Regions from separate parts of the Homo sapiens genome. Here region 2 is linked to region 1. Evidence: fine-mapped expression QTL. A gene starts in region 1. The other region holds a variant in brackets. All regions are shown on one strand. Distances are between the middles of the regions.

Region 1 (3,017 bases):
AAGTTGAAAGAAAGAAAAAAAAAAAAAGCAAGAGATCTAGTTGATAGTCTGTTTTACTAATGATTCACTGGGTAACCCTGGATCAGTCTTCTTAACTCGAAGTGAAGCGCCCAGTAAATAAACTCCCAAAATGCCTTCCAAGGAAAATATTTTGTTGCCAAATCAATTTGCTCTCTTAATGACTTAGCAGACATGATCTTGGTGATTATATGAAGAACTGCATAATTACAAGTATTCACAGGAAACCTGGTATTTGCCTATCAGTTTCGGATCCTATGAAGGTTTAAATGAGTCTAATATATGGTTCTTTAAGGATCTACAAACCAGTATGTATTTTAGAAAAGCTAGTTTTTGCATGAGGAGGATAGGTTTTAGAATGTGAGCCTTTCCAGCATGTTACTACTGTCTTTCCACACTTATTCGGCGCCCACACTGAATTGGGAAGGTGCTGTGTAAAAACCTGGACAGGACAATACAAAAAATGGTTCTCAGCGCCACTCCTCCTATCCTTACATCTCTTTTCTCTCCAAACTGTTCGAGAATCTGATAGAAGATCTCCAGAGTAGCGTCAATCAACTGCACAAAGGTCTGCATTACAACATACAGAGAGAGACATATGGGCTTGTCCAGCTCTTCAGAGCAAGGACGGCCTGATGCAGACTTTCCAGACCTCTAACATAGGTTAAAGAGAAACGAAGCAAACGCCTGGTGAAAAGCTGGAAACACCTCATATGGGTCCCCGCCTGGCCTCTCCAAAGCAAATGCCCACCTCTTCCTTCAGTCCCCTGGGGGCGACCGCCCTGCCCCATCCCCGCAGTCGCCTGCCGGCCCTGACCTCCTCGAACTGCTCGCTAGAGCAGCCGGCGCCGCGAGCCTCCAGCAGCTCCCGGAACTGCTCCAGAGTGACAGACTCTTCGCCGCGGCCCAGCCGCTCTTCCAGCCAGCGAAACAACGCGCCGCGATGCCTCGACACCAGCGACTCGCAGGGGGGTGTGGGCAGCAACGCTGCAGCAGCCTCTCGCAGCCTGGCCGGCTCCAGCAGCGCCGCGGCGGGTGGTAGCGCTGGAGCCGCGACGCCCGGGCCGGGGGTCGTGCCCGAGACCGCGGCCCAGTCCTGGTGTGGGCCCCAGCCCTCGCCACCGGCAGCTGCCGCTTCGTCTTCACTGCTGTGACTCGGAGCGTTCCCCATGGGGTCTCCGTCTTGGGCGCCTGGCTCTGCAGCCGCCGCCGCCGCCTCCCCGCCTCGACCTGTCAACCTCCGACAGCAGCTGGCGGGCGGGGACGCGGAGGAGACGACGGCGGCCCCTGCGGCTTCCGGCTTCCTGGCCGTCAAGCGACGACCGCTGTCGCAAAGGCGCCGTCACGTAGATAGGCGGCCTCTACCAACTCACGACAGCTAGGCGGGGAGCGCCGCCTCAAAGGGTGCAACCTTGATTTCCCAGAGGACGAGTCTGTCTCAGTATCTACGTCATTCCGTAGCCTCCGCTGCCGCCATCTTTGTTGGGGCTGACAACCTGCAAGCCAAGAAGTACGAGAAGGGCCAGGCGCGGTGGCTCACGCCTGTAATCCCAGCACTTTGGGAGGCCGAGACGGGTGGATCACCTGAGGTCAGGAGTTCGAGACCAGCCTGACCAACGTGGTGAAACCCTGTCTCTACTAAATACAAAATATTAGCCGGACGTGGGGGCGCGTGCCTGTAATCCCAGCTACTTGGGAGGCTGAGGCAGGAGAATCGCTTGAACCCGGGAGGCGGAGGTTGCAGTGAGCCGAGATTCCGCCAGTGCACTCCAGCCTGGACAACAAGAGCTAAAACTCTGTCTCAGAAAAAAAAAAAAAAAGTACCTGGAAAAAGTCGCAGACAGCGAGCTTTTCGCCAGTGCCAGGAATACAGATAAAACGAGAGAGACTAAGGGAGGGAGCGCGAGCACTAGCGCGCGAGAGAGAGAGCGAGAGCGCGCGCGCCGATGACGTCACGCTCGGCGTCTCGGCCATCTTAGCTGTAGATAGAGGCGGCAACCTCGGAAGTGCGGAGCGGGTGGGCCTATATAGATGTTGAGGTGCGGAGGCCGTGGGCTTTTGTTGGGCCTGGCTGTAGCCGCAGCAGCGGTAATGGCAGCACGGCTTATGGGCTGGTGGGGTCCCCGCGCTGGCTTTCGCCTTTTCATACCGGAGGAGCTGTCTCGCTACCGCGGCGGCCCAGGGGACCCGGGCCTGTACTTGGCGTTGCTCGGCCGTGTCTACGATGTGTCCTCCGGCCGGAGGCACTACGAGCCTGGGTCCCACTATAGCGGCTTCGCAGGTATCAGCGAGGCTGCTCACGCCTTTCTCTCCGCTGGCGCGAGCCAGTAGCCACCTGCGCGTCGTTCGTTGGTTCATTATTCATCTATTTCCCCCCCCATCCCCACCCCACATCCATCAAACCCGTGCGGTGGGCGGGACGAGCTGCATGCACTATCCTTCTAGGCTCTCTGGCTCTGGCGGGACTGTGGGCCAGCTCTGTCATCCACCACCGCCCTGCGTGACTTACATTGGAGAAACATGTCTTCTGTCTCTTGTTACCCATTACCCAGCGTCGGAAGCCCTAGGATACGGGCTGTGTGCCGGACTTTTGTGGGGGCTCTTAGGGCACAGATAAACGAGATCCCGCCCCGCCCCTACCCTCACAGTTTCCTTAATAATTCCAACCATCTCTTCATTATGCCCTGGTCCCAAATAATCTTTCTTCCCCCCACCCCTAAGCATAGTGTTTTCAAGGTTCATCCATGGTTTATGAGCATGCATCAATACTTTATTCCTTTATGGCCCGTCATATAGTACATTTGGTCTGAGTCATTCCTGCTTCTAGTACAAGATGCACCTGTTTGCCTTCCTTAGAAGGTTAGGGCAGAGGAAAGGGGTCCAGTCACCTTTACAGTCCTTGATACGTAGACCAAAGTTGTGCATATGTTAGGCCTCAAGAAACATTTGTCAAATTAAGTTTATGCTGGTGTCCCTGTGTTACAGCTGAGGGGGTTAAA
Region 2 (2,500 bases), 32 kb after region 1:
CCGGCCACAGCAGCGACTGGCCACGCACAGAGCCATCCTTTCTGGTCTTCACCGCCCTCAAGGATGCATCACAAATGCAATCTCATGATTGCTCTGTGCTGTGCCTTCTGCTTCAGCAGTTACCCAAAGGTGAGATTTAACAGTTTCCCAAGGAGGCAGTGTGGGCTTCCAGGGCTCCCACTCAGATGGGGAGGCTGCCCAAGGCCTGGGCAGTCGCAGGTTGGATGCTCTACCCAGAGCACTTCCTGTCACAGCTTTGCTCCTGTAAAAGCCAACCTCCCCAGTGGGGAGCAGACCCAAGGGTGCACTGCACCCCCACCCCTAGAATGGAGGGATCGTTCAAGCCACTAAAGAATGACTGGGAGTTACCATTGTTTCCATTCTCATCCACGGCAGCAAAGTCCACGCCATTCTCTAGGAGGACTGAGCAGATGGTGGGCAGGTCCTGCTGGGCAGCAAGATGGAGGGCAGTCTGGCGATGCTTGGTTAATTCGTTCACTTTGGCTCCCGCAAGAAGCTGTTGAAGTTCATTACATGAACAGTCAGTCTCTCTGCCACAATCAAGATCCCCCTTATGGGGGCCGAGCCTGCTTGTCTTCTGACACCCACAGAGGCTGATGGCCTGCCCTGCTGACAGAGCTGGGAGCATAGGAGCTTCACACACACTCCTGCTGAAGCAGAAACCAGCAAAACCCGTGCCAAGGGCAAACTGGCAATTACCTATCAAAATGTTAAAGAGCCATTCCTTGGGATGCAGAAACTCTACTTCTAAGGTTTTCGTGTATAAAAGCTGTGCAGGACTGCAGTGATGGCCGCTGTACTATCTACGGGTGTCTACTGCTTGGAATAGGAAAGCCTGAAGGCAAAGGGGTTTGGTTGTAAAAAATTGTAATAGGTACAAACAGTAGAGTAAGATGATAAATATTTATCGATTAACATGGAAAGATGTTGATGACAAGTAAGTTTAAAAAACCTTGCAAATTAGAAGATAGTATGATTCCATCTGGGGAAGACAGAGCTCTGTGTACACACAAGCATGCAGGCACAGAGGCACTTGGAAGGTGTTTCAAAGCATAAATGCCATACTCCGAAGAGCTGGGACTCAAAGAGAGACACTATCTGTTTCACATCCTTACATGCTTTGA[G/C]TTTTTCCACAATGAGTATGTACTATTTCACTATTGTTTTCTATTTATTATTTCTTGAGACAGCAACTTGCTGTGTCACCCAGGCTGGAGTGCAGTGGTACCATCATAGCTCACTGCAGCCTTGAACGCCTGGGCTTAGATGATTGGCCCACCTCAGCCTCCTGAGTAGCCAGGACCACAGGCATGTGACCCTATACCTGGCTAATTAAAAAAAAGAAAAATTCTGTAGAGACAACGTCTTGCTATGTTGCCCAGACTGGTGTCAAACTCCAGGCCTCAAGTGATCCTCCCACCTTGGCCTCCCAAAGTCCTGGGATTACAGCATAAGCCACTGCACCCGGCCTGTTTTTTAAAAGAAAGAACACAGGCCGGGTGCAGTGGCTCAGGCCTGTAGTCCCAGCACTTTGGGAGACTGAGGCGGGCGGATTGCTTCAGCCCAGAAGTTCGAGACCAACCCAGGTAACATGGCAAAACCTCATCTCTACAAAAAATTTAAAAATTAGCTGGGTGTAATGGTGTGCACCTGTAATCACAGCTACTCGGGAGGATGAGATGGGAGGATTGATTGAGCCTGGCAGGTCAAGCCTGCAGCGAGCTGTGATCAGGTCACTGCACTCCAGCCTGGGCAACAGAGCAAGACCATGTCTCAAAAAAGGAAAAAGAAAAAAAAAAGAAAGAAAAAAAGGGACACAAAGAATTACAGAATCAACACAGCCGGAGGGACCTTTACATAATACCTATTCGTTTAGTATTTGAAGTTCGTCATCCTCTTTCTGACAAAGTTTAAAAAACAATCGCTGTAAACAGAAAATACATGTAGTCTGTAGTCAGAACCCAATTTGCTGCTGCTGAGGTGTATGGCCACCCCTGGTTCCTCCGTGTGTACAGGCACTGCCTCTGGGAAAATCTAGGTGCTGCTTAGCTGCTCTGGTTAGGACCCTGACTTCTAAGTCTCAGCCTCCCCAGAACTCTGGGCGCCCAGTCTAATCACTGATCGATAAGACATATGAGTGGATATGGGACTCTCCATACGGGACGTCTCACAGATGTATATTCATGGTCCCTGGTGCTGTGTTAGGGATCATAACTGGCCCCACAGCTGGTTAACTGGGAGGAGAGAGTGGGGAAGGGGTTTCAGTATGAACAGGGTCAAACAGGATGCAGCATCAATTCAGAGGAAGGAGCACACGGACACTGGAAGACCCGCTGTTTCTAGTGTTTCTGGGCGATCCTATCATCTGTCATGCCGGGCCCCAGGAAGGCGGGGTCCTTGGTCAGGGACCGTAACCTCCTCCAGCCCTACAGAGGCATAAAGACTGATGAACACGAGGCCGATTCCCTACGACTTTGGGACC

What was found. PIP is the estimated chance that this variant, and not a neighbour inherited with it, causes the effect.
Region 2: its variant is fine-mapped to the expression of CYB5D2 in whole blood (TOPMed, PIP 0.92).

Annotation. Positions count from the first base shown.
Region 1 is chr17:4,141,707-4,144,723 of GRCh38, forward strand. CYB5D2 (cytochrome b5 domain containing 2) reads left to right here and starts at 1,491. Exons shown (of 4, transcript NM_144611.4): 1 at 1,491-2,299. The coding sequence starts at 2,050. It overlaps ZZEF1 (zinc finger ZZ-type and EF-hand domain containing 1), which reads right to left and starts at 1,324. Exons shown (of 55, transcript NM_015113.4): 1 at 836-1,324. The coding sequence starts at 1,189. RefSeq lists a silencer at 1,050-1,219 and enhancers at 1,085-1,636, 1,300-1,609, 1,637-2,189, 1,760-2,339.
Region 2 is chr17:4,173,540-4,176,039 of GRCh38, forward strand. ANKFY1 (ankyrin repeat and FYVE domain containing 1) reads right to left here. Exons shown (of 25, transcript NM_001330063.2): 20 at 370-517. Among named protein-coding and RNA genes, the nearest start is that of CYB5D2, 32 kb to the left of the region's middle. The variant G/C (reference allele first, on the strand shown) is at 1,146.